Regions from separate parts of the Homo sapiens genome. Here regions 1, 2, 3, 4 and 6 are each reported to be linked to region 5. The links are microRNA targets in miRTarBase. Many come from high-throughput screens and were not tested one by one. Region 5 holds a microRNA gene; each other region holds the end of a gene's coding sequence.
Evidence for each region. Region 5 holds the annotated microRNA hsa-miR-34b-3p (CAAUCACUAACUCCACUGCCAU, at 2,330-2,351, shown strand). A microRNA usually pairs through its seed, bases 2 to 8, with sites in the 3' UTR of a target mRNA and lowers its output. Matches are read on the target gene's strand: a 7mer-m8 pairs with bases 2 to 8, a 7mer-A1 pairs with bases 2 to 7 and ends in A, and an 8mer does both.

Region 1: miRTarBase lists STYX as a target of hsa-miR-34b-3p. Seed matches in the 3' UTR shown: 7mer-A1 at 2,003-2,009 and 7mer-m8 at 2,561-2,567.
Region 2: miRTarBase lists ZC3H8 as a target of hsa-miR-34b-3p. The part of its 3' UTR that is shown has no 7-base or 8-base seed match.
Region 3: the mRNA of TMED5 is a reported target of hsa-miR-34b-3p. Seed matches in the 3' UTR shown: 7mer-m8 at 2,089-2,095 and 7mer-A1 at 1,757-1,763.
Region 4: the mRNA of JAG1 is a reported target of hsa-miR-34b-3p. The part of its 3' UTR that is shown has no 7-base or 8-base seed match.
Region 6: miRTarBase lists LIPG as a target of hsa-miR-34b-3p. The part of its 3' UTR that is shown has no 7-base or 8-base seed match.

Annotation. Positions count from the first base shown.
Region 1 is chr14:52,770,878-52,774,969 of GRCh38, forward strand. STYX (serine/threonine/tyrosine interacting protein) reads left to right here. Exons shown (of 11, transcript NM_145251.4): 11 at 156-4,092. The coding sequence ends at 229. Among named protein-coding and RNA genes, the nearest start is that of GNPNAT1, 19 kb to the right of the region's middle.
Region 2 is chr2:112,227,668-112,231,743 of GRCh38, reverse strand. ZC3H8 (zinc finger CCCH-type containing 8) reads left to right here. Exons shown (of 9, transcript NM_032494.3): 8 at 794-841. The coding sequence ends at 826. It also overlaps a transcript of FBLN7 not described here. Among named protein-coding and RNA genes, the nearest start is that of ZC3H8, 25 kb to the left of the region's middle.
Region 3 is chr1:93,150,944-93,155,035 of GRCh38, forward strand. It overlaps TMED5 (transmembrane p24 trafficking protein 5), which reads right to left. Exons shown (of 4, transcript NM_016040.5): 4 at 1-3,945. The coding sequence ends at 3,727. Among named protein-coding and RNA genes, the nearest start is that of TMED5, 27 kb to the right of the region's middle.
Region 4 is chr20:10,636,121-10,640,212 of GRCh38, forward strand. It overlaps JAG1 (jagged canonical Notch ligand 1), which reads right to left. Exons shown (of 26, transcript NM_000214.3): 26 at 1,564-3,835. The coding sequence ends at 3,378. Among named protein-coding and RNA genes, the nearest start is that of MIR6870, 12 kb to the right of the region's middle. RefSeq lists enhancers at 610-1,406, 1,407-2,203.
Region 5 is chr11:111,510,658-111,514,749 of GRCh38, forward strand. MIR34B (microRNA 34b) reads left to right here and starts at 2,281; the gene lies at 2,281-2,364. It overlaps BTG4 (BTG anti-proliferation factor 4), which reads right to left and starts at 1,729. Exons shown (of 5, transcript NM_001367975.1): 1 at 1,524-1,729. MIR34BHG (MIR34B and MIR34C host gene) reads left to right here. Exons shown (of 2, transcript NR_147706.1): 1 at 1-215; 2 at 2,361-3,231. MIR34C (microRNA 34c) reads left to right here and starts at 2,782; the gene lies at 2,782-2,858. RefSeq lists an enhancer at 1-584.
Region 6 is chr18:49,590,126-49,594,217 of GRCh38, forward strand. It overlaps LIPG (lipase G, endothelial type), which reads left to right. Exons shown (of 10, transcript NM_006033.4): 10 at 376-4,092. The coding sequence ends at 397. Among named protein-coding and RNA genes, the nearest start is that of LIPG, 30 kb to the left of the region's middle.

The DNA of each region.
Region 1 (4,092 bases), not on the chromosome of region 5:
AATTTATCACAAAGGAATTTACTAAATTTTGCTATATCAGTTGTGGAATTTTCATAGTGTATACATGATCACTTAATAACAAAATTTTACTTGCTGTAACCTTTTAACATGAATTTATTTTAGTGCCCTTTTAATCTTCATGCAATAACTTTTAGGCAGTTTGAAGAGAACACATGAAGAAGAGGATGATTTTGGAACCATGCAAGTGGCGACTGCACAGAATGGCTGACTTGAAGAGCAACATCATAGAGTGTGAATTTCTATTTGGGAAGGAGAAAATACAAGAGAAAATTATAATGTAAAATGGTAAAAACATAAGTAGTTTTTTTTTCAATTACATGTTGCTTCCAGACATACTTCTCTGCAACTTGTTGAGCAACATTTTAAGATGTTGGACTTCTGCAATAGATGACACTGATGGTTTTACTCCTTTTTTTAAAAACACATGCGCGCGCACACACACATGCTTTACAAGTTTTATTATAAACCAAGAATTTTGGACTTGCAAAGAGGTATTATTGCAATAATGCACTTTTCATACTTGAAATTTATTTGTATGATATAAAGTTATTACTTTAAACAAAATGCAAGTATGGGGGGATTGTTTATAAAGTTTGGGTAATTTATAACAAAATTTGCTAAGGTTTGCTAAAAATTCATTTTTCTGTTCTATATATTACATTTTTAACATAATTTTACAGTTCAATTTTATGATGGAGCCTCTTACAGAAACATTAACAAAATGCAGGAATCTGCCACATTTCTTTTTTAGTATAACTTAATAGCTTAATTACCATTTTATTTTTTATACTTCTTCCATTATTAATCTTTAAATCATGATCCTAATTAGCTGTCCTTACTTTAACTTGATCTAATTATTGCTTCCTTTCTTATTACTTTCCTAATTTTTCTATATTTTAAAAACTACAGTTTCCATGATAAAAGGAAAACGTTTTGATTTATAGTACCAAGTGCTTAAACACAAGGATAGTGTTAGATTTTCGAGTGACTTTCCTTTTTGCATTTTTTGGCAGTAAAAGCCAAACGTTGTATTTGTTCTTTTCAGAGTTGTCCAGCCCTTTTTTCCTTTGTCCAAAATGATTCTAAATAGAATCTAATAAACCAATGTAGCATTATTTTTTTCTAAATGAAGCCCCAAAAAAGAAAAGTGCCTTGCATCATTTAAAAAAAATAATTAAATCCTCATGGCCTCTAAATTAGTATGTAGAACACTGAAAAGTTCTTAACATTTTTGTGTAATTTCCTTTCTTTTTAAACCATAAATTAGTTTAAACTGAAAGTACGAGGCTGGAAGAAATATTAGTAAATTATTTGGAATATAGAATGTTTACTCTTTCTTTTTATGTTGTCTTAATGATTCTGTGAGATTGTTCCGGCTCAAACAGAAGCTTTTCTTTGGGGAAGGTGATTTGTGGGAGACTAGTGTATTTTAAATTAGCATTTTAATCCATTCTTGACATTCAGTTAGTCCAGATCTGCCCCATAATTTGCTTTAGTAAAGTCACTTTATGGATTTTTGGCTATGTTTTAGTTTGTGTGTATAAAAGTTCTAAGAAAACATTTTTGCTATTTTAAGTATGTAAGGGAAGAGAGGAGTGTTTTTAACTTTTTATAGTTGATGACTTTAGGGTAGCACAAACAAAACTCCTTTGTATCTAACTTTTCTCAATCCTCTCTTGAGGTGCTTTACTAATGGGAATGATTTCTGTATGTTCCCTTGGTACCAAGAGGTACTATGCAAAGTAACCTATTACACCAAGTTACTTGCTTTGCTTTCCTCTCTATGATGTGATAATACAGTAAAAGCTTTCTTACCCAGCATAGTGGGAGAGTGGAGATTAATTAAAATTGTTAATTAAGAGTTAATTCCTATTGACCCAGGTGATATTTCTCTTCTGATTTCCCTCCCCTTCCCTTCTCTTATCTTACCACTGTGAAAACAGCATATTGTTAATCTCGTTGTCGTCCAGTATTCTGCTTTGTGATTAGGTCTTTTGATGTACAGTGGTCTAGTGGAGTCAAGATTCGCATTGGGTTTTCTAAAATTCCAGTTGATAAAAGTTCCAGATAACACAGCTTTCCTGTATATAGATCACTATTGGGCAGGTCAGCAAAGATCTCTTACAGTGTAATAATAATCTATGATGCTTCATTTAGCAGAAACTCTGCTTAAAAGAATCTTCATAATAGTAAGTTTAGGTTTTAAAAACTTGTTTCATAAATATACATATATCCTCTCTAGTAGTCTGGCCAAAAGAACAGATTTTGTTATTGATAATTTGTAGCTGGTAATTTTCCACATTTTCTATCCACTGTAATTTTTATGTTGTCACTGAAGTGCCTGCCCAGTACTGTATATTACAGTCTCTCACAAACACTGGGAAAAGGGACTGTCATCATCTTGAGTACTCTGTGTGTATATATATATATATAGATAGATAGATTTTTTTTTTTTTTTGAGACAGAGTCTCTAATGTCACCCAGGCTGGAGTACAGTGGCACAATCTTGGCTCACTGCAACCTCCACCTCCTGGGTTCAAGTGATTTTCCTGCCTCAGCCTCCCAAGTAGCTGGGGTTAGAGGCACATGCCACCATGCCTGGCTAATTTTTGTAGTTTTAGTAGAGATGGGGTTTCACCATGTTGGCCAGGCTGGTCTCAAACTCCTGACCTCAAGTGATCCACCCACCTCGGCCTCCCAAAGTGCTGGGATTACAGGCGTGAGCCACTGCGCCTGGCTGAGTACAATATTAATGTAGACAAACCATGAAGTTTATTATTTCATATAAGAACATTACAGGTTTGTTTTTTCTTGCATGTCTGTCCACCTAATGTTTAAGTAGTTCTGGTAGCTCTTCCTATTCTTTATTCTATTTGATTCCATTTCTGTGATTCTTTTATTACCACTGATGTTTTGTGATAGTTAACTATGATAAATTTAACTGATCATGATTTATCTTCTAGAGTATTTAAATAATGTATGAGTGACCACCCAATTCCAACATTAAAAGTGTAATCTGGGCCCATAATTTATAGTGAAATTGTATCAAAACATAGGGAAACTGTATTACTGTCCATTTTGAAAATATGAAACTTGAGTATTGAAAATATTCAAACATGGAATGGCAGTATTCTAATTTCAGTTAGTTGGTTCATGTTAATTTCTTACCTGTTAGATGTTTAAACTGCAGTGACCTTTACTTGTATCTACTCTGTGGTGGAAATGTTAAACCATGATAGCTTTTGCTACCAACTCAACCACTTAACTTTTAGAGCAGTTTTGGGGAGAGTTTATGCTTCATCTGAGTTTAGAAGTAATGTCAGAAAATGTTAAGCATGTCTGTATTAAGAAAATATAAGGTTTCTAATTGTCTTATTAATATGGTAATTCAAGTGAATTAGAAATATTTAACTGCAATCTTGAATTATAAAGTTGAGATATATATATATATGTATCAAGATCTCAACTTGATGTAAAGTAAATGAGCAGTTACCTGGCGGATTTTTTTTTTTTTAAATAACTGATTTAATCCATAATCCCATAACAAACATAGCTTCACCTCAGTATTTTCTTTCTTTCTTTGTTCAACAGTGCTCCGATAAGGGAATGCTAGAAAATAGATGAGAAGTACTGAAAGACCTTTTTTTTTAATTGATTAGAAAAGTAAGTCTCTAGGGTCTTTGAATGCTGGAATTTTTTTTTTTTTTTTTGTCTTTCCCATCTGTGGCAGCTAAAACAAAAATCACTCAAAATATTCAGGTTTACATGTTAGCTCTCTCTCATAGGGAGCTGCCATACCTCACAGTTCAAAGTGTATTCTATAGATCAGTAACATTATACTGACATGTAATTGCAATTTACTATGCAGCAAAAATGATTCAAGAAGAAAAATAACCTACAGTGTCTGTATACCTTTGTATACACAATTGCTTAAGTTACTCTGCTTTTAACATTTGTACTTGGATAAAATGCTTATGTCTGTATAGGAATGTCACAGTGCAAGATGCTGCTAGCCCAGGCACAAAGTATTAAAATTATTTTGTGAAGATTGGTGGTTGTATTAAAACTGCT
Region 2 (4,076 bases), not on the chromosome of region 5:
TCTTAGGTTAGCATATGGGATATATTAGGACTAATAACTTAAGAATTCAGTTTAAATATTTTTCATTTGTATATGTTTCCTTGTAGCTGAAAGGAAGATGTATATTCATTGCTGATTTAAGTTGGAAAGATGTAAAATCTTCAGTATAATTAGCCATTTTAATAGCTAAGCTAAGCTAAACAAAGCAAATCAAATAAGAAAAATAGTACTCCTGTTATAAAGATTCTTGGAAGGAAAGTTACAAGTTACGGGTTTATAAACATTTTAGAATTACATCAAATAATAGTTAAGTAGTAATTTCAAAATGTTTTCTTCAGATATTCTTTCAGTCTGTGAGAAAAGGTTATTGAAAAGTTACAGTCATTTGTATTCTTTCATTTCTCATGTTAGTTGGAGCTAGTCTCTTAAAAATTTAATCTAAGTATACATGAAAATTTAAAAGATTCTTTTGAAGCCAACCATACGATCTTCTGGCAAAATGTTCCCTTGAGCATATGTAAATATTACAAAGTCAAAGGTGCTTGTTTATAGATATTTTTAGGTTGTAAAATATGAATGGTTAATGTGGAATTAGAAGTTGTACCAAATATTTAGTTGTTTATTTGTGTGAAATAGATATGGAAAAGTGATATATATGAAATAAGTTTTTCAGTTCCTGTAGTAGTAGTAAATAATATTAGATGATTATTAGGATGAATTTGATTGGAATCATTTGAAAGTTATGAATATGACAGTATACCTGAATTACACATGAATGCATAAAAATGATTATGTGATTTTTTTTTTATATTAGGTTTTGGATACTGAAAAGAAGTCATGTAAATAAAATAGACATAAAAAGGTAAAATTAGAATTTACCACATTTCTTTTTTTCTTGTCTGAACATCTCCAGAAGTTGGCATGCAACCTCAATAGGGTTCTCAAATAGAAGTATTTTTCTTCTTCCTCCGCCACTAAAAAAGAATTATAAAATATTTGATATATTTACATACCTATATGGATCTACATCAGCCTGCTTCCTTGTGTGGGCTTGTCTATCAGGTATATTTTTATTCTCCTCTTGTGTTTCTTTGTAGATTTACCAAATACGTATAATTCACAAAACAATATATTTAGTTTTGCTTATGTTTGGATTTTATCAGACTGTATCATACTCTCTGTATTAATTGATGACGTGGCTATTTTCACCCAACATTATTCATTCGTGTAGATGCATGCAGCTGTCATTCATTTTTACTCCTATATAACATTTCACTTTATGTTTATATTAGTTATTTGGTCATTCTACTATTAATGAATATTTAGGTTATTTTCAATTTTTAAAAATACTAACTCTTGTAAATATCCATATACATACTTCTTGGCATGAATGTGCACAAGTTATCCACAGTATGTGCCAAGGAGTAGAATCATATCATCATAAAATTTAATATAATATCAGTTTTTTTCTCAAGTAGTTATACCAGTTTATACTCCTACAAACTGTGTAGAAGAACTGTCATTCTACACTTGCCAGTACTTTATATTGTCAATACTTTAATTTCAACCAATTTAGTGGATGTAAAAATAGAATCTCGTAACTTAATTTGCATGAAGTGCAGCATCTTTTCTTATGCTTACTGGTTTTTGAGTTTCATCTTTGGTGAAATGCCTGTTAATGTCTTTGCCCATGTTTTTATTGGTCTGATTGTCCTTTATACATTGATTTCTATATATTCCTTATATAATTCTTTGTGAGGTATGTGTGGCAGGCCTTCTCCCATTTTGTGGACGGTCTTTTCGTTTTTTGTTTTTTTTTTTTGCGGCATCTCAGTGAGTAGAATTACTTATTTTGGGAATCTTTTTGTTTATGCCTACTTTTGTGTTTTGTGTCTCATTTAAGAAATTATTCCCTGTCATGAGGCTGTAAAGTAATTTAACTTTTTTTTTAAGTTTTGGAGCTTTGCTGTATACGTTTATATTTTAATCCATTGGGAATTGTATTAACAGTTGGTACAGTAATGGTGCTTAGCAAAAACAACTACAAGGTTCTCAGTAGTGAATAACACAAAGTGCTTATTTTTTATGCATATATAGATTGGCTGGGAGTTGGCTGATCTCATCTGGCCTTGGTTGGGTTGGCACTGTTTCATATGGCAGATCTGCTGGGTCAGTTCTGCCCATACTTATCTAACTCTCCTGGGACCAGTGGGCTAGCTAGGGCATGTTCTTCTCATGGTGTTGGCAGAAACTCAAGAGGGCAAAGCCCTGTTTACAGCACATTTACTTATAACCCATTGGCTAAAGTAAGTCATATGGCCAAGCCCAAAGTCAAGGAGAAGGAAACTGTACTCCACCTTTTGTACTTTACATGTGGGAGGAACTGGTAGAATGAATGAAAAAAGAGTATAACTGTAACTCTAGGGAGAAAAGAAAAAATAATACTAATAGACTTTTTTAAAATGGTATCAGATAGAGGCCTCATATCATTCTTATTTTTGTTGTTGTTGTTCCCTTTTTCCCACATGGATAACCAATCTCCCAAGCATTATTTAATTAAAAAGACTGCTCTTTCCCCCACTAACCTGTAATACCCCTTTTGGTATATGTCAAGTTTCCATCAAGTGAAGATCTGAAGGTCTGTTTCTGGGATGTCAGTTCTTCTCCATTTGTCTTTTTCTCCAGTATATACTATCTTAATTACCGTAGCAACACTTGTTACTGTCAGTCATTTTGATTATAGCTTTTCCAGTAGGAGTGATGCTGTATCTCACTGTAGTTGTAATTTTCATTTCTCAAATGACTATGAACATCTTTTCATGTGCTTATTGGCCATTAGTCAGTTTAGATCTCTGCCCATTTTAAAATTAGATTGTTTTCTTATTGAGTTTTAGGAGTTCTTTACGTATGTTGGATACAGATCCTTTATTAGATACATGATTTGCAAATATCCCAATCTGTGGCTTGTCTTATTTTATTAATGGTATCTTTTGAAGCATCAAAGTTTTCATTTTGATGTCGTACAGTTTATCAGTTTTCTCTTCTATGGATCATGCTTTCCGTGTTGTATCTAAGAATTTATTGCCTAACACAAAGTCACAAGATGTGCTCTTATGTTTTCTTCTAAAAATTTTCTAGTTTTAGCTCTTGTGTTTATGTCTATGATTCATTTTGAGTTAATTTTTAGGAATTGTGTGAGTTAAGGGCAAAACTTTTTTTTACATGTAGATGTCCAATTGTCCCAGCACTTTTTTTTTTTTTTTTGAGACAGAGTCTCACTCTGTTGCCAGACTGGAGTGCAGTGGTGCAGTCTCGGCTCACTGCAACCTCTGCCTCCCAGGTTCAAGTGATTCTCATGCCTCAGCATCCCGAGTAGCTGGAACTGTAGGTGTGTACCACCATGCCTCCTAATTTTTGTTATTTTTAGTAGAGACAGGCTTTCACTATGTTGGCCAGGTTGGTCTTGAACTCCTGACCTCAGGTGATCTGCCCACCTTGGCCTCCCAAATTCTGGGATTACAAAGGTGAGCCACTGTGCCTGGCCACCAGCACCATTTTAAAAAAAGACTGCCCCTTCCCCCTGACTTGCCTTCATGCCTTTGTCAAAAATCAGCTGACTATAAATGTATGGATTTATTTCTGTACTTAGTTGTGTTCCATTGACCTCTATATGTGTGTCCTTATACACTATCACAGTGTCTTGATTACTATAGCTTTGTTCTAAGTTTTGAAATAAGGAAGCGTAAGCTGTCTAGCTTTGTTCTACTTTTCAAAGATTGTTTTGGCTACTCTGGATCTTTTGCTTTTCCATATAAGTTTTAAGATCAGCTTGTACATTCTGCAAAAAACCCATGCTGAGATTTTGATAGGGATTGCATTGCATCTGTGGAAAATTGCACATAGAATTCTGATCTGTGAGCATGGAATGTCTCTCCATTTATTTAGATCTTCAGTTTCTCTCAGTTTTGTAATTTTCACTGTACAAGTGTACAGTGTACACTTTTTTGTTAATTTATTCGTACATATTCTGTTTGATGCTATTGAATGGAATTGTAATTTAAACTTTATTTTTAGTTGTTCATTGGTAGTATGTAGAA
Region 3 (4,092 bases), not on the chromosome of region 5:
ACAACACAAGTACTAAAACGAGGGTTTTTGTTTGTAAAACTGTCAATTAGGATTTTAATTCATGGTCAGTGAAGACCTTCAGGATTTTCCCTGCCCTGCATTTTCTTGCCTTTTTCTTTCAGATGCAGGGATCCAGAGTCCATCTCCATTGTGCCCTGTCTTATGTAACATCATCCTAGCTCTAGATTCTTTAATTGGTGTCCTTTCCCCAGACGTACATTAGGTGTATGGCTCCAGGTTATGACAACAGCCTTCCAGAAGCCTTAGACACCTGAAAGTGATAGCAGTGCAGAAGCAGAAAGGTGCCTAAGGATTTCTACCAGCTTGTGGTAGAAGAGTGGCTTGTCTGGATGGTTTGAGGGAAATGACCAAATAATAACCTACCTACACCAAGCATTGTACTTTTCCTATATGCTAACAAGTTTTAAGATGTTTCTGAACAAGTTTTAAAATATTTCTGAAAATGAAATAGTCTCAAAGGAGTTTTGATTTTGCAAGATCACTTAGCAAATGATCCAAGGATAACTGACAGGATTCTATATTGTGTTGGTTGAAAATTAAGAATCCTGAGCCATATTCCAGACCTGAATAATCAATTTCTGGGGTGAGGTGGAGCAGGTAAGTTCCCTGGGTGCTTATTTAGCATACCAAACTTTAAGAACTGATTATCTTTCCTTTCATATATTTTGAGCAAAAACTGTACCTTTTAGGAACAGTGCATGTTTAGGCAACAGGTGAATAAGTACATATAGAAACAGAACTCCAATGCAAAGTAGAGTGATGTACAATAAGAGGTGTAGAGAGCTATGGGGTTTCAAAACAGGAGGAGAGAGCACATTATTAACTAAATAGAGATGAAGGAAGGCTTTCAGGAGTAGACAGCATTTACAAATGACTGGCAGTTAATTTTCTTTGATAATTTTTATTATATACATATCAGTACTCACAATACGTTGCTTATTTAAGATGGCTGTTTATAAGTATAAAGCAGTTTGAGCAACACTGATTGTGCATTATTGTACTTCAGATGAAAAATCCTTACATGTGGAATCAATGTCTTTTAAAATTTCAGATAAAGAATTTTCATTTGAGGAGACATACAATTGTAAGTGCTCATTTTTTGTCAATTTTAAGACACCATTATGTGTAAGAAGGATTAATTTTACCATAAAATTACAAACACCCTCCATGTCTTGACATTCACATGAAAGAACAGCATAACATTAATCATCCAAATGCATATCAGAGCAAACTCTAGGCCTTAGTGTGAGGTGAACACGGTAACTGCTACATTATGGAAATCGGTTGGGCCTTAGTTAAATATTGTAGTATTTTTAAAATTTGTATATTGAAAAAGACAAAATGAGCTGTTAAGTGATAAACAGCTTACTCAATTTAGCATAACTTTAATTTAGAAATGGAATAGTGAAATTAAAAAAAGCATATGAAGCAGATAAACAGTATGTCTTTAGAAATATTAAAGATTTTTACTCTGTTTACAAGTTTTGCTTTTTTGGTTATGCCTCTTAAATATCTGTCTTTTTACTTTGTCTATAAAAATAATTGTCCTTAGTATTCCTAAATTCTTTTCCAAATAAAGCAATTATCGTTTTTATATGGTAAGAAGTTACTGAATCATAGGTTTAAGATCAGTGGCACAAATCATACATGTAGAAGATTATGTAACAAATTCATTGTTAGGTAAGGAGTCAGAGAGTACAGTACAGTAACAGCCATACAGGAGAGGTAGAATTCTTAATCACAGTTTTATAGAAAAGATGCAGTAGTTTATATCTGTACCCTGCTTTATTAGTTATGGTACTGTAAATTTGCTTCTCATTGCAAATTTAACAGCGCAAAAGGGAGGGGTATTCATAGGCAAGGATCTTATTGACCTTTGTTCTGCAAGTGTTGCAGAGGATACCCCTAGACACCTGAAGCATTTTCTTGGCCAATTAAGGTAATTGATCATATACGGCATTTACCTCATTTTTAAAAACCTTGCCAGTAGGGAAATCTAAGCTGCTCTTCTCCCAGGGGCCTAAGAGGGAAATGTATCTCTTTTTATACTACTATGAGTGTAAATGAAATCACTCTCTGGTTATCATTATTGCTCATCAAGAATTCCAGCATTACTAACCTGTTGAGGGGTTCTATACCCCAAATTTTAAGTTTGTTTCTAACTCACAATGTAGTCATAAACAACGTTATAAATGGGCATAACTTAAAAATTATAGTTCATTCATGATGAAGTTAAATTACTAGTACTTGAGTAAGACCCCCATAGACTTCAAAAAGCTAGATGGCAGAAACTTTGTTGTATATATGGGTTATTCACATTTAGGTGTTTAAAACTTGGGAGTCTATGTTTCTAATCCTTACTTCAACATCAATAAATAAAGTGTTCAGAAAGGCCATTTTAATAAAAGTTGTTATAATAAAAATTTTTAATAAATATGTACACCCAGTGCTAAACCTTACAGTAGGGCTTACATTTTATAAAATGTACCTGCTTACAAAAATAATTCAAACCAGAATTCTTGTAGAAAATAAAAACCTACAGCCAAAGTTTCTTCCAGCTAACTGGAAATTAATCATCTCCTTTGATTTATGTTATGAGTAGGATGTCATGATGAGCCAGTCAGATTCTAGATATTTATTTATAGTTCTACTTAAGTGAATTTTATTTTGGATTAGGTTTTCTCAAGTTTTTCTAAATTCTTTCCTGTTTCTGATAATTCTTAGAGCTCAGAAAAGGAGATATTTATTTATGGTAGGCCCAGATCATTTTAGCAATATTTCCTTCATAACTGCTGGTAATAATGAATTATCCAAGTCAGCAATCATGTTAAAATTAACATAACATGATTATTAACTGTTGACAGATATTAACTTGACAGATACTATTAAAAATAAACTTATTTTACCTCACATTTAATTTTAAAATCCTACACTTTAGTTAAGGGTTAGAGAAAATGTGTCCCTATGGAGGAGGAAGCTTTTAAACTATATTCTTCATTTCAAAGAGAAAACATGTCCTAATTTTAGTAAGTGTAACTTTGTGTTTTTAAGAATCGTGAAAATGTCAGCTTTTGGGAATGTAAGCAAAGTACAAAGACTAATGCTTTCTGCTAATATGTTACACTGAAATGTATTTGGTTATAAAAATCTCAAAAACCTAATTGTATTTCAAAGCTATTATTCTATTTACATTATAGGAGAGATGCATATGTAAATAGAGAAAAGTTGGGCTTTTGTAGTCTAAAGATTTATTCAATCCATCATTAGGTAATTCTCAGGTGATTTATAACTTAAAACTGAAAACTTCCACAGTTAATTTGTAACTGCCGCATTTACAAAAAAGTTCTGGGTAATAGAACCTGTTAAAAACAGACTGGTGTTGCAATTAGGCCCAATACTCATTTATTTAAATCACCTAAGACATTTGCAAAATTTTTCAAAGTTAGGAAAATGCAGTTATTAATATGGCTTCATTCAGTTAAACCTATATTCTGCAAAATATTCCTGTTACACACTTAAGTACAACTGGATCAGCAGGATTACTTGCACAGAAAGTGAAGACTTAATTTTCACATTAAAATTATACCTGTTTCCTACTTTTATATCTCAAAATATTTTGGAGAAGACCATTAATGGTCTTGACTGTAACAGTTTATTGCATTTTTATGCCTCATTTTTCAATGTTACGTACTCTAGTTTGGAGTTTTAAGTTCTACTTTTCCTCTTATCTTCAAACAGACTCTTCAGCATATAAACTTGAATGGCTGACACCACCACCATGACCACTAAATTAACCATAGACCAGAAATTGACTCTATCAAAGTTGCTTTCTTGTATGTTTCGATCACGAGCTTCAAATGCTCTAAGCAGAGTTTGTATGTGCCCACTTTTGCTTAGTCTGGACTTGATGCTGTTGATGGATTCCTGGAGATAAATAAAATAATTTTATTATTAAAGAATGCTCAGAAATTTTAACTTAATTAAAAAATGAGGCTGGGTGCAGTGACTCATGCCTTGTAATCCTGGAACTTTGGGAGACTAGGGCAGGAGGACCCCTTGAACCCAGGAGTT
Region 4 (4,092 bases), not on the chromosome of region 5:
TTAAGTGTTCTTTCCTGGAGTTTCATGGGATATTCTAATGCTAGAGTTCTAGTTAGCCAAGTTTCTGGACTGAAAATTTTTTCTTCCAGGGCCCCTTTAAAGAGAGCCCAGGGCGTTCCTGGGGAATGAATGGTAAAGGCACTGAGTCCCTTCCTCTCAACTTTCCTAACCCCAGGATAACCAGAGCACCATTGCCTGCTTCCTTCTTCCTGAAGGAAGGGGAAAATCCACCCTTCACAATTAAAGTCCTGGCACTGAGCCACATCCAGAGGAGGCTGATCTATGCCCTCCCAATACCAGGGGTGTCCCAGACAGAAGGTGAGTTAAGACAACACCCATGAATCCCAAGATCCCTTCCCTCCTGGAATAAAGAATTGCAGAGACTCATTCAACTTTTTTTTTTTTTTTTCTTGGCACAAAAGCATCTGGCAGCTACCCAAGGAATTCTGGGGTCCTGCAGAATCCAAGTTTACAAACCACCAGAACAAGGTTTTGCTTCAGGATAGTGTTTGACTCCACTGCTGCGAAATGACTGTCTCCTGGCTAGTAGGATCTAGATTTCTCCCTCCCTTTGACCCCACCTTGTGGAAACCCAGCTGTCTACTGGCAGACATTGGTGAGAAAGCGGAGCTACGCTAGGGCAGGGAGATGTCATGGAAACCTCAACTCTTCGCTGTCCGGGTCCTTCAGGCCACCTCCCCAATGAGCCAAAACAGTGTTGGCCCTCTTAGGGTTGTCACAATCCCAAATCCCTCGATGGCCTCTGCTCATGCACAAGGATCCCAGGACACTTAAAGCTCATCTTTCATTCTTAAGATGTTCCTTAGCACAACTCCAAGCCTAGAAGAAAAAATGTTTCCCCGAGAACAAAGAAAAACATCCCCATCAGCTTTTCCTCCATTCAAAGTCTGCTGTGCCAGTTGTATGAAAACCGGACGTGGGTGGACAGGCCTGAATGTTGAAGTGCTGGGGGATGGCTCTGAGAAGGGTGAGCTTTGGCTTTCCTAGCCAGAAGCAGAGTCCTGGTGACTCTGCACGGCTGCTGGAAGCTGTCCATGTGCTTGTTACCACAGCTTATTCCTTCCGCAGAGGTGCCAGAGGCAAAGCTTCTCCCACACCCCACCACGCGATGCGGGGGCAGGGCCTCCACCAGCCACAAGTGAGAGAACCAGAGTTCTCCTGCCCGTGACAGGTGGGGACAGCCCAACTCTGGAACCTCACAGAAGACCAGAACACCAGCACTCCAAGGCTGCATGGTGAGGCCAGAACACTCATTCCCTGGGAACAAGGTGATGAGTGATGAGCCCGAACACCAGAAGCTTGCAACTACCACCTCCTGTGCCGTGAGGAAACCACCCCATGGGTAAATGTGCACAAGAGTCATTTCAGACCACACCCTTACAACAGGACATTAATATGAATCTAAGTAGCCAGGGAAAAAAAAGAGGCAGACATTAAATCTCCCTGCTCGTTTCCCAACACCAATTCCAAACCCTTTAAAACCCTTTCAGTGCTGTGGCCAGTTCCCCTGATTGCTCACAAACAATTCACCTCGACACTACAGGCCATTAATCCAGTGGTGTTTATTCAAGCAGTATTCACACTTGCTGTTGAATAACAAGGGAATCAAGGCTCCCCTAGATGGGGCTCCCGCAGTTCCAGCTTCACAGCAGCCCCAGGTCTTTGAGAACTCCAGATGAGTTTTGTGGTTGAAAAGCCTTTCAGTTCTTCCTCCATCCCTCTGTCAGGCAGAGCCTATTATACCCCGATTACCAGAACAGACTCAGCAGGGTGGCAGAAGCACATGGCAAAGCCGGTAGAACTACGTAAGCTCAGAAGAGGCCACACTGTTCCATGTTTTCATACAAAAAAATTTAATAAATATTACTTTTCAAAATTTATTGCCAAGAACAACACATCAAAGATGCATTTGTATGTTCATATAACACTAATAGGACAATACAAAGTATCTTCACGGTCTCAATGGTGAACCAACAAGATTACTCTGTTTTATAAGCCTTTTTGATCTTGAACTTCGTAATAGCACTTTGATTTCCTCACTTAAGGCAGGCAGTGTACTCTATGGCAAATCTAAACAGTGATCTTACTGGACATTTTATGGTTCAAGTATTCAACTAGCTTATTAGAATACTCCCTAAATGCAGTAGATTAAAAAAAAAAATCAAATCTACAAGTGGTTCAGTATTATGTACGAATGGTGAAAAGAAATCAGAATTTACAAAGTAAGATTGGTGTGCTTCCAAGTTCACACAATTAATTTGATATTTTTAATCATATTCAACCACTCACATTTTGGCTATGTTAAGTCATAGCTCAACTTGTTCCCTTACTGCTCTGCAGCAGATCACCTGCCTGTCTCTTTTCAAGTCTAAAGCAGAAAAACAAAAAACAAACAAACAAAAAAACCTGTTCTAAACTAATCCTCAAACTGCCTCAGTCAGTCCTTAAAACGTGTTTTAAGTGATGCTATAGAAGGTGTTTTAAACATCTGACGTCGTACAAAAAAATTCCATCAGTATTCTGGGCACAGAAGCCCATCCTATTGTTTTAAAATAAACTATTTTCAAACACCTTAATTTTGGCTTATAGGCAACAAGTAATGAGAAGAGTTCAAAAAAATAAAGCCATACGCTTACAATGCTATCAAAAACCTTCAATTCTAAACACATACATATAAATAAAAAGGAATGATGTTTTAAGGCTCTTGATTATTAAGTTAATAAATCAAATATACACAGTGATTAATAAAAAAGAATTATTTACATAACTATACAAAGTTCTACTTTTGACATTTTTTTCTTTAAATTCTTCATTTTACCAGCAACTGCTGACATCAAAGTCTCCCCTCCCCCAACAACAAAAATACAATTAAAAAAAATAAATAATAAAGTCATTTGTGATCGTTGCTGTGGTTCTGAGCTGCAAAGGCACTTTCAAATACAGAACTACTTGTACGTCATCATAAAACCAATATACAAAAACAACTCAAGAGTCAATAAATATAAATAAAACTATGATCTAAGACTGCATCACCATTAGGACATCTGGCAGAAGTGGGAGCTCAAAGACCAGGGGGCTGGGCAGGCTCCTGGGAGCCTGATCCGAGACCGTGTCGGCTGCAAGGGGACACACAACCAGGGTACTGTTGACTAGCTTTTTGCATAGCTGTGAGATGCGGCACTCGATTTCCCAGCCAACCACAGAAACTACCATTGCCAGTGTAAGCCAGCTTGTCAAAACTTAAATTAACACAGGGATTCTAAGTCAGCAACGGCCTCAGACTCGAGTATGACACGACAGTTTAAAGAACTACAAGCCCTCAGACTCTACCTAGCGGCGGCAGTGCCCGCGGTCTGCTATACGATGTACTCCATTCGGTTTAAGCTCTGGGCACTTTCCAAGTCTCTGTTGTCCTGTTTGTTTGTCCAGTTTGGGTGTTTTGTCGGCGTGCCGTTGGGGGGCTTCTCTTCTCTGTCTACCAGCGTGTACGCCGGCTGCTTGGCAAACCGGGCTTTCTGCTGGTGTTTGTCCATGTCGTCCTCTTCTACTTCAGAATTGTGTGTCCTTATTTTAGACATTTTGGAGTTCTTGTTCTCATAATCCTTGATGGGGACCGTGTTGGCCCCATGTTTCTCAATGGGGTTTTTGATCTGGTTCAGCTGCTCCCGCACGTTGTTGGTGGTGTTGTCCTCAGAGGCTGAGTGTGTGTGGCTGCCCGGCTTCCGCCGCTTCCGCAGGCACCAGTAGAAGGCCGTCACCAAGCAACAGATCCAAGCCACAGTTAAGACAGAGCTCAGCAAGGGAACAAGGAAATCTGTAAGGCAGGCACAAAACCAATTAACTCTCCAAGAAAGAAAGAAAAAAGCATCATCGCAGGAACAAAAGAATACCAACAGTGGTTCTCCTGCCCTTTATCCCTAAGAGGGGGGCCACAGGGACAAGTCCCTTTTCATCATTGCATATGGTCACTTCACAACTTGATAAGCAAATGCTGGGATCAGGCCCCTGTAGACCTTGATACTCTTATCCCTGGAGAGACTGGGTGGAGCGGCAGCTCCTACAGGCTCTTTG
Region 5 (4,092 bases):
CTAGGCCACACATATTTTTTGTCGTTATTTAAATTTTTAGTTGTACTACATAGAAAATAAACTCATTTTAAAAAGTTATTTCAGTAGGCAATGCATCTTCATGACTTTTACATATGAGTTTTATTTTTTATTACTTTTGAAGAAAAGTCTGTAGAAACCTACTTTTCAAGGCATCTGACCCAACCATTGCCTTGGATGGCAGCAATCCAGCTCAGGTAAGATATTTAAGATGCAACTAATAATCATAAAACATCAGTTGGGAAGAAGTGTTCGATATAGTATTGGGTAAAAGTGACTAACAATTTGGTAGAAGAGAATCATTTTTATAACTATCTCCTAACCAAGATTTCTCTAAGTCTGCATATTGTTAATGGAATGAAGACTATTTTGCTCCTAGTTTCATGTATGTATATTTAGGTGAATGTGAGTCATTTATGTAATGTGTGCTAAAACACCGTGCCCCTCACAAAGATAAGATGAATACAAAATACAGTTATTGTAGATGGCTTGTCTTTCACAATTTAATTCTACGAGTTAATTTTTACAATTAACATTTTCTGTGCTACATATTTTGTATTTTGGTTTCTTTCCCTTCACTATGGGGTGTACAGAACAAAGTATGCATTTGGAAAAAAAGTGCTGTCTTTCATATGCAAAGAAAATGCTATAACTTATTCAAACATCCTTGGGCAGTTCTTTAGTTGTTTTAATAGTGTGAGTTTGTAGTTTGTATTGAATGATCCAGATGACCTGCCCCTGTTCATGTTACTTGTGGCATCTATGAGACCATTTGCTGGTTTTAGGGAATCAATCTATAGGTGGGAAGTTTTCTTTTGCAGAAACTAATTTAGAACTAAGCCTTTGGTGTCAGCAATGGGTGCTCTATACTGGATGCATGAAGACCATATTTCTAGGGGAGGCTGCTTCCAGCTGAATTTCACAAGGTGAGGATAAAGAGAACATTCCTTATCCTCTCCTGATTAATTCATTAAAGGCAAAGGAGGGGAAGGAAAGTTATTAGCAGAGATCTCCCAGAAGTCCTCTGTAACTGTCCCTTTTGCCCAACTGTCACAAGATACTGTTTTTCTGGCATCCACAGCCCTAACCCTGAATATCCAAATGTACTCGTGCATCAAGGATCTACTCAAGTCTCACCTCCTCTGGGAACCTTCTTTGACCTATTACAGCTCTCATTGAGGACCTCCCTTCTATTTCTGATACAAATAGTTTCTACTATTCTAAATAGTCCCTAGTTTAGTAATTTATTATATATATACTGTCTTGAATGGTATGGCCTTGATCTCAAGAGGACCACGATTTGATGTAACTAACAAGCTGCCTGGCTCACTATTTGACTAGAAGGCCCAGGCTTCACATCACTGCATGGCCCTCTAAGAGTATAAGGCCAAGTCCCCAACAGAGCACAGAGGTGCAGATGAGACTCTCCAAGCCATCCTCCCATATGTCAGAGGCTACCCAAGCCCACCTCCATTTGGAAAATTCAAACCTATAATTTGAGGTACCTGGGAAGCCGCTTTCCCAGGGCGGAATGGTCACGGAAACTGGGTAGGCTGGGGGCCTTCTTGGGGAATGAGGGAGTGGAGGAGCTCTTTGTCCCTCCTGCTAGATCAGAAAGAGAAACGTCTCAAGAATCTGGGCCTCCATCTTCTAGGCGTCTCCCTTGGAGGCCCTTCAGGGACCGCCCACAGCGCTTTCTCTCAGCCTCCTCCCCCCCCCCATCCCCTCCCCCACCCGCCCCGTCTCGCGCCCGCCCCGCCCCTCGGCCCGCGGGGTTCCAAGGACGGTTGGTCGCCCCCGCCACAGTCACTCGGCCGCTCAGAGCGGCGGGGCGCACGGGGTCGAGAGAGCCAGCTCTAGGGTTTGGGGCTGGGAACTGAAGCCTGGCGTGAAGGAAGTGGGAGCCCGGGCCGAGGAGGCGAAGGGGAAAGGAAAAGCGAGGGGAACCTGAGCGGGAGGGCCCTGAGAGGAGCGGGAGGCTGCGGGAAGGGGAGGCCTGGCACTCCTGGGGGTCATGGGGGTCGGGGCGCGGCTCCCGGCCTGGGAGGGCGCGGGTCCTCCCCGGCAGCGCCGCCCGCTGGCCCAGCTACGCGTGTTGTGCGCTGCGAGGCCGGCGGGGGTCCCGCTGGGCCCGGGGGTGTCCTCGGGGGCCGCTTGCGCCCAGCCATGGTAGGGCGTCCCCCGGTGAAATGGGGTCCGAGGCGGGCCCCGACCCCGCGTCGGCGCTGCGGACCGTCCGGGAGCTGCAGCCGCGGGTGCCCGGTGCTCGGTTTGTAGGCAGTGTCATTAGCTGATTGTACTGTGGTGGTTACAATCACTAACTCCACTGCCATCAAAACAAGGCACAGCATCACCGCCGCCCGGCCGGGAAGAAGACGCCGGCTCGGGCAGCCCGCAGCCTTCGAGAGAAGATGCCTGAGAAGCGCGGCGTCGGCGTGGGTCCTGCGCAGCCTGCCCCGCGAGCGCCCGCTGCAAGTGCGAGGAAACCCGCGGTTTCTCCAGATACAGTTAAACTGTTAGCTCTCTCTAGGAGTCACAGAAGATGAAACAGTCTCATGCCAGGAAAGCAAAATCCCTGGAGGTGAAGCCCCTCCATCCATGTAACGGTTAATACTGTATGCTGTGATTCACTGTGTCTATTTGCCATCGTCTAGTAGAGTATTCACCAAGCTAGCAACTCAGTTGAGCTCCAACTCAACCAATGAATTGCCTGCCTGTCACAACGTGTTGGGGTACCAACTTGAGACTGCAATTTTTTCTATGAGTCTAGTTACTAGGCAGTGTAGTTAGCTGATTGCTAATAGTACCAATCACTAACCACACGGCCAGGTAAAAAGATTTGGGAATTCGTCCAAATGAGCTGCCTGTGCATCATCAATGTGCGTGGGGAAGAGGGGTGTTGGAAAATGCTGATTTCATCCATTGCCTATTAATTGCTCAGCCAAAAGAAAAAAATCAACATTTCAGCTACTAAGTTTACAATGTATGTAATGTGTATGTATGTGGGGTTTTGTTTTGTTTTTTTTTCAATATTCCTTCAGGCTCTTAACCAAAATTTTAGATATAAGGGGGAATATGATTTTTTTCTTAGCTGACTGATGTATGTTATTATATGAACATGTGATTATTAACTTCTTGAGACTATATTGTTAGTAATATTTTGAAAGTAATATTGTTAGTAATATTTCGAAAGAATAAAGTGCCATAAAGACATAAATTGTGGTTATTGCTATGTGTCCATTTCCTTTGCTAAATTGACTTTATGATGTCCATCTCAGTTCCTGCCACAGTAATCTTAACTTTTCTATCAATGAAGTGGTTAAGTTGTTCCTGCCATGACAAAAATCTCCCGGGAAAGCTACTCATACACACAGACTTGTTAATACTTTTATAAGAAATACATTAACAAAATTTTTCATACTTCTTTTTTCCATGAAGAGACTCTGTTCACTCATTAAGATGTATCCCTTCTTTTAAGTAATCATTTACAACTGTTGGAGTCTATGCAACTTTTAGTGGGAGTGATTAGTAAATGCACTTACACTTTAAATCCAGCTTGTTTCCTAAGATTTAAAGGATTCAGAATTTTAAAATCACAGAAACTGTACACATGGGCACGTATCCGCCCAGTTCAGGCCTCTAGCTCCCAAGGGCTAGGCTTTCAGGCGTGAATTCTCCAGCGCAACGTTCTCAGAACTTCCACCTAGCAGGTGCTGTCCCTGGCAATCTGGTTTGGAAGTGGGGATTGGGGCAATGGGGCTGAGGAATTTAAAGTTTATTTAGCTATCTTTCTGGGGGGAGGGGAGAGGATGTGGCAGCCCACTGAGGATATAAGAAGCTAAACTACTCCCCCACTGACTCCGACAGGACACAACCCAAAGTTGACGTTTTGACTCTCCCATATCCAAGATTTGGACTGGTCCTAAAACCTGATCACCGCAGGGGTGGGCTTCCGACGGCCCCCACGCGCGTGGCGGATCCCAACACCTACCTAGGAAACCGAGGGCAGCCGGCAGGGGCTGGTACCAACTTGGCGGTTCTCGGAGGGGCGGGGCAGGGGCGGGGCGGGGGGAG
Region 6 (4,092 bases), not on the chromosome of region 5:
GCAAAGAGGACACTTTGATAGTTCTCCCCACACTTGTGTGTCCATGATTGTGTGTGTGTGTGTGTGTGTGTGTGTGTGTGTGTATGTTGTGGGTGGATAATATGTAAATGCAAGAACTGTGATGTACTCAACTCAGGGTCCAGAGGGTGCTGCAGTGTGGTGTTTCTCAAAGTGCATCTATGGCTTGTCAGGTTAGGGAGAGAAGGCAGCACTCGGGACCTTGTCCATTTATTCTGAAAGGAATACATGTAAAATAGTCCCATAGGGGTGTCAGAAAGCTTGGCCTTAAGGTCAAAAGAGCACACCCTGAATACAGGTTTGCGCGTTTGCTGGTGTGTGAGCTAACAAATGCCACTCTCACACGGTTTCTTTCAGTCCCACTGTGGAGCTTCCCTGAGGGTGCCCGGGCAAGTCTTGCCAGCAAGGCAGCAAGACTTCCTGCTATCCAAGCCCATGGAGGAAAGTTACTGCTGAGGACCCACCCAATGGAAGGATTCTTCTCAGCCTTGACCCTGGAGCACTGGGAACAACTGGTCTCCTGTGATGGCTGGGACTCCTCGCGGGAGGGGACTGCGCTGCTATAGCTCTTGCTGCCTCTCTTGAATAGCTCTAACTCCAAACCTCTGTCCACACCTCCAGAGCACCAAGTCCAGATTTGTGTGTAAGCAGCTGGGTGCCTGGGGCCTCTCGTGCACACTGGATTGGTTTCTCAGTTGCTGGGCGAGCCTGTACTCTGCCTGACGAGGAACGCTGGCTCCGAAGAGGCCCTGTGTAGAAGGCTGTCAGCTGCTCAGCCTGCTTTGAGCCTCAGTGAGAAGTCCTTCCGACAGGAGCTGACTCATGTCAGGATGGCAGGCCTGGTATCTTGCTCGGGCCCTAGCTGTTGGGGTTCTCATGGGTTGCACTGACCATACTGCTTACGTCTTAGCCATTCCGTCCTGCTCCCCAGCTCACTCTCTGAAGCACACATCATTGGCTTTCCTATTTTTCTGTTCATTTTTTAATTGAGCAAATGTCTATTGAACACTTAAAATTAATTAGAATGTGGTAATGGACATATTACTGAGCCTCTCCATTTGGAACCCAGTGGAGTTGGGATTTCTAGACCCTCTTTCTGTTTGGATGGTGTATGTGTATATGCATGGGGAAAGGCACCTGGGGCCTGGGGGAGGCTATAGGATATAAGCATTAGGGACCCTGAGGCTTTAAGTGGTTTCTATTTCTTCTTAGTTATTATGTGCCACCTTCTTAGTTATTATGTGCCACCTCCCCTATGAGTGACGTGTTTGATCACTAGCAGAATAGCAAGCAGAGTATCATTCATGCTGGGGCCAGAATGATGGCCGGTTGCCAGATATAACTGCTTTGGAGCAAATCTCTTCTGTTTAGAGAGATAGAAGTTATGACATATGTAATACACATCTGTGTACACAGAAACCGGCACCTGCCAGACAGAGCTGGTTCTAAGATTTAATACAGTGCTTTTTTTCCTCTTTGAAATATTTTACTTTAATACCAGTGCCTTTTCTTGTTGAACTTCTTGGAAAAGCCACCAATTCTAGATCTTGATTTGAATTAATACACACAATATCTGAGACACTTACACTTTTCAAAAGATTTGTGTATGCATTGCCTAATTAGAGTAGGGGGAGAAGGGCAACTATTATTATCCCTATTTTACAAAACTGAGGCTTAGTGAGGTTCAGCCACATGCCTAGACTTATATACTAGTTAGTGGTGCAGCCAGGGAGAGGACTCAGATTTCCTGGAGGCAAAGTCTATCTCTGAAACTCCATGAAGACTTTTGCAGCCAGTTCCCACCAATATGCCCCAGACGTGAGACAAACAAGGACTTTTTTTTTTATATAGAGCCATCCATAAAATCCTAAGCCCTTTTATTAATGTATAACCAGGAGAACATCTGTGCCAACGGTTGGACTTTTTATGGCTGAGATTCGGGAGGAAGTGTGACACCAAGCAGGAGAGGAAGAATGATTTTCTTTGTACTTAGGTTTTCTAAGGACATTGTTTTAATCTGTATCGTGCCAAAGTTGTATCACTGTTAAACTTCTGAAGACATAACCAGTTGAGTCTTATTTCAAGATATGTTCTCAAGCCAATTGTGTGCTTCTCTTGTTTCTGTGATTGCTTTCTAGCCAAAGCGAAGCTTGTACAGGTTGAGTATCCCTTATCCAAAATGCTTGGAACCAGAAGTGTTTCAAATTTTAGATTATTTTCAGATTTTGGAATGTTTGCATATACATAATGAGATATTTTGGGAATAGGACCCGAGCCTAAACACAAAATTCATTGATGTGTCAGTTACACCTTATCCACATAGCCTGAGGGTAATTTTATACGATATTTTAAATAGTTGTGTACATGAAGCATGGTTTGTGGTAACTTATGTGAGGGGTTTTCCCATTTTTTGTCTTGTTGGTGCTCAAAAAGTTTTGGATTTTGGAGCATTTCGGATTTTGGATTTTTGGATTAGGGTTGCTCAACCCATATTATTGGCTGTACATCCTGGTCACTTCTGACTTCTGTTTTTACTAATGGAAGCTTTGCAAATTGAATTCTCAGTGAGTTGTATATTTATACACCTGGCTTGAAGCCTTAATTGTATATAATGATGCTTTTTAAAAAATGCTATTTGGAAGACTATTTATTTCTCGTGTATATAATGTATATAAAAAAATATGGTTAGTGTTTACCTAAGGTTAACCAATTTCAAGATTAAAATTTTTAAATAGTAAAATAATAAAAAATTATAAAGTTCTTAATGGTCTGACAACTCAATTTTTTTTTTTTTTTTTTTTTTTTTTGAGACAGAGCCTCTCTCTGTCACCCAGGCTGGAGTGCAGTGGCAATCTTGGCTCACTACAACCTCTGCCTCCTGGGCTCAGGTGGTCCTCCCACCTCAGCCTTCTGAGTAGCTGGGATTACAGAGATGCGTCACCATGTCTGGCTAATTTTTGTATTTTTAGTAGAGATGGGGTTTCGCCATGTTGGCCAGGCTGGTCAGGCTGGGTTCGAACTCCTGGCCTCAAGTGATCCGCCTGCCTCAGCCTCTGAAAGTTCTGAGATTATAGGTGTGAGCCACCGTGCCTGGCCAATTCTTAAAGTTTGAAAGAATATAGCTGCCCCAACCTAGAGTCTGACAAAAAGTTACTCTAATATAAGGCATATTCTTTATTTGACACTCATCGTTAGCAGAAGTGGACAGCAATTCACTAAAGAACCAGAACAAGAACATCATTTCACTGAAGACGAGAAGAAAAATTATTTCAATTGTAGCAGCTTGAAGGCCTGAAGGTGGATGTTAGGAAGAACAGGGAGCATGGCTGGACACTGGGGAGCATTAGTGAGATTATTAGGTTTGGTTGAATTGGAACTAGATATCAGTGACTTAGACCAGAGGGAAGCTGATTTCTCTATTGGTTAAAGTCCCAGCTGGTAGTAAGGTTCTATTCTACAGGCCAAGAGGGCTGCAGGTTCTTAGTTTTTCACTGTGCCATTCATGGGGTATTCCTCGCATCCCCACAGCCCAGGGGTCCCCTACCAGCCAATGGAAAGCCAGAAAAGGGAAGGGATGAACAGTCTCCTCTTAAAGACATGACTGAGAAGTTGCTTACATTCTATTGGCCAGAAATAAATCCATGGTCACATGACAGGCTGGGAAATACAGTCTTTATTTAGGGTGCCCATGGGCCCTGCTGAAGATCCAATTACTATTTATTTAAAATTGACATATAATAATTGTACATATTTGTGGGGAAAATAGTGATGTTTCGATACATACAAGGTATAGTGATCATGTTGGAATAATTAGCATACCCATCCTTTCAAACATGTATCATTTCTTTGTGTTGGGAACATTCAATATCCTCCTTCTAGTTACTTGAAACCATATTTTATTAACTCTAGTTTTACCCTTCAGTGGTATAGGACACTAGAATTTATTCCTCCTGTCTAGCTGTAATCTTGTTTGTTTCGTTTGGTGTTTTTTGTTTTTTTGTTTTTTTTTGAGATGGAGTCTTGCTCTGTAGCCCAGGCTGGAGTGCAGGGGCATGATCTTGGCCCACTGCAACC